Linked DNA regions of Homo sapiens: region 1 is linked to region 2. The links come from fine-mapping of genetic effects on gene expression. A gene starts in region 2. The other region holds a variant in brackets. All regions are shown on one strand. Distances are between the middles of the regions. Region 1 overlaps SHROOM3 (shroom family member 3). Region 2 holds the start of FAM47E (family with sequence similarity 47 member E).

The links. PIP is the estimated chance that this variant, and not a neighbour inherited with it, causes the effect.
Region 1: its variant is the best candidate, but not a certain one, in a credible set for the expression of FAM47E in ileum (GTEx, PIP 0.53).

Annotation. Positions count from the first base shown.
Region 1 is chr4:76,568,986-76,573,306 of GRCh38, reverse strand. The region is part of intron 2 of SHROOM3 (shroom family member 3); the gene reads right to left. Among named protein-coding and RNA genes, the nearest start is that of MIR4450, 2.4 kb to the left of the region's middle. The variant G/A (reference allele first, on the strand shown) is at 1,646.
Region 2 is chr4:76,249,138-76,253,532 of GRCh38, reverse strand. It overlaps FAM47E (family with sequence similarity 47 member E), which reads right to left and starts at 1,812. Exons shown (of 8, transcript NM_001136570.3): 1 at 1,713-1,812. The coding sequence starts at 1,786. It overlaps FAM47E-STBD1 (FAM47E-STBD1 readthrough), which reads right to left and starts at 1,812. Exons shown (of 7, transcript NM_001242939.2): 1 at 1,713-1,812. The coding sequence starts at 1,786. LOC105377286 (a long non-coding RNA gene) reads left to right here and starts at 1,856. Exons shown (of 3, transcript XR_938897.4): 1 at 1,856-2,425.

The DNA of each region.
Region 1 (4,321 bases), 320 kb before region 2:
ACTAGGTTTGGTAGATAAAATTGGGTACCTACTTTGACTAAAATAAATTCAATGATTATCAGAAATTCAAATTTAATAGGACATCTGTATTTTTAATTGTTAAATCTGGCCACCTTACCTTGTTGTGCCTGTTGAGGGCAAGTGACAGATCTAAATCTCAATTTTATTGAGTTTCAAGCTTGTGTTCATATTTCTTTCTTTCTTTTTTCTTTTTTATTTTTTTTTTGAGACAGTGTCTAGCTCTGTCACCCAGGCTGGAGTGCAGTGGTGCAATCTCAGCTCACTGCAACCTCTCCTCTTGGGTTCAAGCAATTCTCCTGCCTCAGCCTCCCAAGCAGCTGGGACTACAGGCGTGTGCTACCACACCTGGCTAATCTTTTGTATTTTTAGTAGAGACAGGGTTTAACCGTGTTGACCAGGCTGGTCTCGAACTCCTGACCTCAAGTGATCCACCTGCTTTGGCCTCCCAAAGCGCTGGGATTACAGGCTTGAGCCACTGAACCCAGCCTGTGTTCATATTTCATAAGCAGTTGGGTAGCAGAGAAAACTAGTTCAGAATAAATCTCTTCCTACCCACAAACCATAAAGGGGCAAACCCGTACACTGTTATACTGCTAGAGCTGCCCCTAAAACATGCCAATCACTTTTTTCCAGTATATTCAAGATGCAGATATTTACATTTGAACGATCACAATATCCCTAGAAAACAACTCCCAAAATTATGAAATGAGTCTTTAAACTGTATATACTATTAGGATATCTGACACATCCTCTGTCCCTCACCTCCCTGGCCCACCATCATTGACCACTAAGGTTTCCTACTGACTGCACTGGGAATAGTCCTCAGGGGAAGTGTCAGTCACACAGGGAGACCTCAGGATGCCCCAGAACATGCAGGCTGCAGTGGCCAAGGTCAGCCTTTATTAAGATCACTTTCTGCCCATGACCTGAAGGTCCTGTCACCTATCACGGTATACAGTTTGTCACTGAGATTACACCATTGGGAACTCACTCCTTTAGGGTAAGATGTTGACAACCTGCAAAATTGCCCTTTAAAATATGAATAGTAACTTTATTATTCCCGTTGTATGTTAGTGCAAGATTGTATTGTTCTCAAAGGACATTTACTATTCTTAGCCATGTCAAAGATTAGCAAATCATCTCCTAGCAAGGCTCTGAGGGAGTAAGAAATGCAAAGGCAAGTTTGGATGAGGATCCAGGAAAGAGGCAGATATGGAGGAACAATTCTCAGGAAGGAAAGATTTTAGGGAGATTGGGCTGGGGGGCGCAGTATGGAGGAAGCAGAGAGAAGATGGGAGTAGCTTGAGTGCTTCATTAGGATGCTGTTAATAGCAGAGCACAAAGACAAATCTCAACTTCTTCAGAAGCTGTATTTGACCCACGTACAGCCCATCTCACAATGGACACAGAGACTTCTAGATCTATGAATAAGTACTAGTAAGACTAGTACAGAATCCTAACATCATTTATCAGGCTTCCACTATTTGGAAGAGAAATGATAAAATCTTATTGGAAGTCTCAACTATTCTCTTACAAAATAATGAATGTTACAACATTTCAGTATTAATCAGGCATTTCAACCACATAAAATCACAGAACAAACTGTGATTGGAATCAAGCTGTG[G/A]GGTTTTGCTTTGTTTTGTTTTGAAAGGAGTGTAGAAAATGATGAGCTTGTGTTCATGTCTTGGTGCACTCTAACGCCTCTGCCACTTCTCTCTTCTTGCAGTATTGTTTCTCCCATTTCTATTTTTATTGGCATGTAAACTTGCTAATGTCAAATGAGTGAGACAACACGGGAAGGCTAATTTATTTAGTGAACGTGAATCAACACTGCTGGGAAAACAAAAGGGCCCAGTGTGTGCTTTCTTTAAAGCAAAGCAAATAAAAGCATTGGCCAAGCCCAACTCCTCTTCTCCCAGAGGCTGAAGAACCCATATTGGTTCAGGGATTTCAGCAATCACTGAAAACCAGCTCAACTGAACTAGTTTTTACTGATGTAAAAGCTTGGGCTTTTGTATCAGATAGACTGGAGTTTAAATTCACACTTAACACATGTATCCCCTTGATAAGACTGCCCTCTTGCAAGTCTATCTCCTCGTCTGTAAAATAGAGTAGTAATAATCCCTATTACTGGTGTTGTGAGAAATAAATCAAAGAATGAAAATGCTTAGACACCCACCCAAAGCTAACATTTTGAGAGCTTACTAAAATTATTTATTTAAAGATAGCAGGCTAAGTTTGCAAATCAAAAATGATTCCTGTAAGTAGGATCCTAAACTGATAACAATTGGTCCACTTCTTCAGAACTTACTAGGAATCCTATGACTGTGAATGCTCAGTAATCCAGTCCAATCACCTCATGTACATTTAGTGTCAAGTGCCCCCATTCTTTGACCCCATTTCTTAATTTTAGAATGTTAATCCCAAGAAATTTTAATTCTAATACCACCCACGTAGTCTGCACACTTAGGGACTGGGACGGGAATGTGCATGAATTATTACACAGCCCTCACTGTTGCAGGGCTGTCCTGAATATAGCAAAGATAAGTTCGCCTTTTCTGAGCATTTTCTTGAAAGAGCCTAAAATTAAATTTGCAGCTAGATGATGCATTGTAAACCCACAAGTTTGCAAAGAGGAGAAATGCAAGACAGATTAAACAAAACGAAAGAAAACACGGTGAGTCTTAAATTCCTGAACATGAGCTCATGTTTATATTCATTGCTACCTCATGGAGTGACTCGGAGTTTTTGACCTCTGCCCCTGACTTTGAGACAGTGATGGAAAGGTGACGAGGAATGGCAAACAAAGGTTGAAAGGGCCTTGAATCCAAACACGGCTGGATTTTGTGGGGATGCCACCGATTGCACACCAGCCACAGCCCCAGGTTGCATTTTCTCAGGAGTTCCCACAGACTGATGTTGGTCCTCATGCCTCATCAAGTCAGCACAGTTGTTATGAAGGTGTCAGATGTGAAACTGTAAACAGAGTGACATGGAGGCCATTCCTGCTTAGTGACCTGTAGCAGAAAGGTCTATTTTTAGAAACTGCTGCAGGTTGCTCTGCCCTTGGAAAGGTGGCAGGCTGAGAAGTACTGGTGTGCGTGTGTGTGTGTGTGTGTGTGTGTGTGTTTTAACATTTCTGAGCATTTGGGTTGTGTTCTAAAATGTTTCTGAAGGAGTTCACAGAAATAAAAACCATCCCCAAACTTTATTTGAAGTAGAAAATTTGAATTTTGAACTTTACCTATATATCAAGGCCAAGGAAAGGCACGATGCTAGAGACTTTGAAGAATAACCACGGAGTTGCTCAAATGGACACTGATCTCATCCTTTTGTCTCTTACATGGGCCAATGAGGCAGGAAAGATTCATGGGGTTGACCTCACCCAGCCAGAGAAGAGCATGTCCACTCCCTTAGGGCTAGAGGCTGCAAGTTTCAGTGGGTGTTGGCATCTGTTAAAAGGCAGGCTTCCCTCAAGACAGTCTTATGTAGGAAGAGGTACAAAGGATTTGCGAGTTAAATAGACACCACAGCCGTTTTGATGCAAGTTGTCTAAAGACCACACTTTGAGGGGAAAAAAAAAAAACTGTCATAGGAAGAAAACTGGAAAACTAGGAAAACTGGAAAGATGTGTGAGAGAGAGAAGGGAGAATCATCTAACAAAACATGAACATCCCAAATTATCCATTTCCTACCACCAGTAAGAAAGAAAATATAAGATTAAGGCAAAAAGGAGCTCTGGCTTTTGGAGTTTTCTATTTTTATGTATGCCCTGAGAGAGCAGGCTTGGCTGGTGCTAGAAAACCTGACTTCTCTTCCTCATTCTGTGGTTTACTAGACCTGTGACCTGAGGCTAAGTCCTTTCATTTCTGGGTGCTTTGACCTTCATAAAGCAGGCAGCAGTTTCTCCAAAATGACCCCTCTGGAGGTCAGGAGAGGAGCCTTGCCAGTGACCTCTCACCCATCCACCCCGTACTAAAGTTTTATATCCATCGTTATTAGCAAGTCACCTTTTCCCATTGCTTTATTTCCCCCCCTGACAAATTGGATTTCGGTCTAATTTTAGTTTAACTTTCACTGGTGAGAAACGTAAGCCCCAAACCCTCCTCGGTTGGATCTGTTCTTTTACTCATAAAACAGCTAACAGTATGGAAAACTACTTAGTGAAAAATAGAAATGCCTCCATTCAGCACATATATGCTGAGAACTGGTGCCAGCACCTGCTCAATAACTATGGTTGAACTTATGAATGAGATGATTGATAACAGTGTGCCAAACCCAAGGCTGAGTTTTTTTTCTA
Region 2 (4,395 bases):
TATGTTAGGTTCAGGAAAAATCTTGCTTGGCCCATAAAATAAAACTGGAAACAATTTTTCTAAATATTTACTGTTTTCACAGACACTAGTACATGATATATGGATATTTCCCTCTTTAAGAATTGCAAAAGGATACCGGACATGTATCCTAAAGAAATGAAAAAGTATGTTCTCAGAAAATTCTGTACACAAATGTCGATAGCAGCTTTCTACATATTAGCCCCAAAACTGGAATGTCCAAAACAACCTGAATGTCCTTCAACAAGTGAATGGATAAACAAACTGTGGTACATCCACACCAAGGAACACGACTCAGCAACAAAAATGAACTACTGATACACACAACTTGGATGGATCTCAGAGGCTTTATGATGAGTGAAAAAGAGCCAGTCTCAAACAGTTACATACTGTATTATTCTGTTTATCTAACATTCTCAAAAGAACTAACTTACAGAAATGGAGAGCAGCTTAGCGATTGACAAGGCTGGGGTGGGAAAAGAAGTGACAGCAAAGGGGTAATACTAAGAGTTCCTCTGTGGGGAAGGAACAGTTTTGTATCTTTATGTATACATATGACCAAATGTTACAGAACTCACACACCTGAGTGCAAGTAAGAGCTGATAAAATCCAAGTAAGGTCTCTAGTTCAATTAGCATATTCTGCCAATGACGTTTCCTGGTTTGGCAATGTGCTATCGTTATGTAAAATGGTACCACTGTAAGCAGCTAGGGGAAGGGTACATGGGACCTCTGTACTATTTCTGCAACTTCTGGTGAGCCTACAGTTATTTCAAAACAAAATTTTTAAATGGGGGGGAGAAGCTTCCCAAAGAAGCTCTTATGAATAACTGCTAGAAACAACTATGAATAATTGCTAACATGTACACGATACGTTCTATGTGCCAGTGACAACTTTACATGTGCTATCTCCATTAATCCTCACGACAATCTTAGAAAGCTGATTCCTAAGTTATTGCCCCATTTTATAGTTAGGAAAGTGAGCCCAGAAGGAGCAACCAACTTGCCTAAGGTCACCAGGCAAACAAGAGGAGAACTAGCCTTCTACTCAAGCCTTTCTGATTCTAGACTTTGGAATCTTCACCACCACATCGTGCTGTCTCCAAGACAGACGAATTCCATTCTCAAAAGATTGTCAAGGAGTCGGTAAAGGCAAAAACCTTCTTGTTCCTGCTCTGAGGCTACCACAACCGTACAAAATGTTAGCAGACCTCCCTAGCACCCCAGGCGCTCCCCCAACCCTGGGCTCCACTTGGCCACAGCCGCCATCTGGATACCAAAGGCTCCAGGGGCAGCAGATGCCTAACATCGGATACAGGGCTCCAGGCGCCCCGGGGCATCTGGCGAACAGTTGGTTGGCTAGGCCGGAAAAGGGTGGGTGGCTAGCAGGAGGGCACCAGCCTCCGCAGCGGACTCTGCGGCCATCACTTTCCCATCAGAAATGGGGATATTAGTCTACATCCCTGGGGGCGTGGGAGGCGGGGGTTGTGAGGATGACAGCAGGAAAAATCCTTTGCAAAGAGCAGCGCCAAGCGTTGGTTATCTCAGCGTATTATGTTGTACGTACAGGAAGCATTGAGGAGGGAAGGCAGGCTGGACCTCTCCCCTCGCCCCCGCCCCAGCAAGCGCGGGTCTCCAGGCGCCCCCGCGCGGCCCGCGTGGGATGCGCCCTCGGCCCGGGCGCTGAGTGTTTACCTGGACCTGCAGTTCACGCCCTCGCGCACCGGGGCCAACGTCCCCGGCCGGAGCCGCCGCCTGCGGTCCGCCATGGTGGCCCTAGCTTCGCGGCCACCGTCCGGGCTTGGGCGGTGTGTGTGCCCTGCTGCCGCCCCGTTGCTAGGACACCGCACAACCACCGCTGCCGGTATTTGCCCCGGGCGCCTGGCAACTCTGACGCCCCGCTGCGCGGTCCAACCCCTTCTCCGACGCCTGGGGACGTGGACCTGGCCGAGGGAAGGGAGAGGGTACCGGTCCTTGGTGTAATCACGTTTTACTCTGCTGGGAAGGCGTGTTCATCTTCCCACCGAAACGCGCCATAGACTGGATCAGGCGTTTTTTGCTCATCATCGTTTCAAAAAACGTTTACTGAAGGAAAGAAAGGAAGAAGGCAGGAGGAGCGATAAAGAGATAGCAAGAGAAAGAGGATGGAAAGTGGGGAAAATGAATAGATTTCTAAAGGTTGGGAAAGCCTTTTAGCAGGGAGATGTTTTCCTGGAGGTCTTGGAACTCTCTTGGTCTCACAGCCTCTGTAAACCGAGGGCTGCACACCTGTCTCTAGTCCCCAGCTGATTTCCAGAGGCCCTTCCAGCTCCTGTGTTGATTCTTCTGCCTCGACTCACTTCTAGCAGACAAGTACCATCCAGCTGACCCTGGTAGGCACGTGGCCACATAATACGGATTGCACGAGGGTGTGTTTCGTTTTTACTAAATTCTTATGCTACTTCTGAGTGTTTCTGATTTAAATATAAGCATTGGTTCTGCTACTTAATAATTATGCACTCCTGGGGGCAGGGTACTTACATTTTTAAGCTTCATTAATTACCTGGCCTGAAAATGGGGAAAATAATAGTATCTACCTGTAGGGTTATTGGGGATATTCGATGAATATAAAGAAATTAACACAGTGCCAGCATTTAAGAATCCCTCAAGAATTATTATTATGCAAGTACTATTATTCCAGCTGTGAACCGGGGGTGGTAATATTTGTCCTGACTACTTAACAGAGCTGTTGTGAGTTAGTTAATGGAGAAAGCTATGTAGGTAATCATTATAATTAGCCCAATTGTTATTTTTATTTTCTTTGATATTAGTCCGATTGTAATGCAAACTTTTTATTACTTTGAGGAGGTAGGGTTTCTGTAGAAATTCTGTGAGAACTGGGCCAAAAGTATGGTTATCTAGGCTGAATGGAGTCCTGCAGGAATGATTTGTAACAATTTGCCCAAACAATGCTTGATTAAACTAAAAAGCTTCTACACAGCAAAAGAAATAATCAGCAGAGTAAACAGCCCACAGAGTGGGAAAAATCTTTGCAATCTATATATCCAACAAAGGACTAATATTCAGAATCTACAAGGAACTCAAACAAGCCAGCAAGAAAAAAACAAGCAATCCCATCAACAAATGGGCTAAGGACATGAATAGACAATTCTCAAAAGAAGATATAAAAATGGTGAACAAACATATGAAAAAAGGCTAGATATCACTAATTATAAGGGAAATGCAAATCAAAACCACAATGTAATACCACCTTACTCCAGCAAAACTGGCCATAATCAAAAAATTTAAAAAATTAGATGTTGGTGTGGATGTGGGGAAAAGAGAACACTTTTACGCTGCTGGTGGGAATGTAAACTAGTAAAACCACTATGGAAAACAGTGTGGAGATTCCTTAAAGAACTAAAAGTGGATCTACCATTTCATCCAGCAGTCCCACTACCTGGGTATCTACCCAGAGGAAGAAAAGTCATTATACAAAAAAGATACTTGCACACACATGTTAATAGCAGCACAATTTGCAGTTGCAAAACTATGGAACCAGCCCAAATGCCCATCAATCGATGAGTGGATAGAGAAATTGTGGTATATATGTGTATATATACACATATATATAATGGAATAACATTCAGCCATAAAAAGGAATGAAATAATGGCATTAGTAGCAACTTGGATGGAACTGGAGACCATTATTCTAACTGAAGTAACTAAGGAATGGAAAACCAAACATTGTACATTCTCACTCATAAGTAGGAGCTAAGCTATGGGGATGCAAAGGTGTAAGAATGATAAAATGGACTTTGGGAACTTGGGGGGAAGGATAGGACGGGGACAAGAGATAAAAGACTACACATTGGGTACAGGGTACACTGCTTGGGTGATGGGTGCACCAAAATCTCAGAAATTGCCACTGGAGAACTTACTCATGTAACCAAAAAAAAAATAAATAAATAAACAAATAACGGATGCCCAGAAATATTCTGAAGGAGGCATTTTACCGGAATCTCCAAAGGTTGTGACAAAAAGAAGAAAAAGCTGACTACAATTTATATATCAGCAAGCAAGAGGTAGAGTTTCCTAAGATGGCTTTCTATATATTTTCTACAGCTGCAATAATCCTTTTAAAAATATTTAGCAAAATAATATGTTGGCAAATTATCACTCTTAAATAAACAAACAAATAATAAATAAACAATTTGTCCATATGCCTAGGGTTTCTACCAATTCAGGACTGCTTTCCCATTTCTCACCTTAAAGTTCTATTTTTTTGTTTTGTTTTGTTTTCTTTTTTGAGACAGAGTCTCACTCTGTTGCCCAGGCTGGTGTGCAGTGGTGTGATCTCAGCTCACTGCAACCTCCACCTCCTGGGTTCAAGCGATCC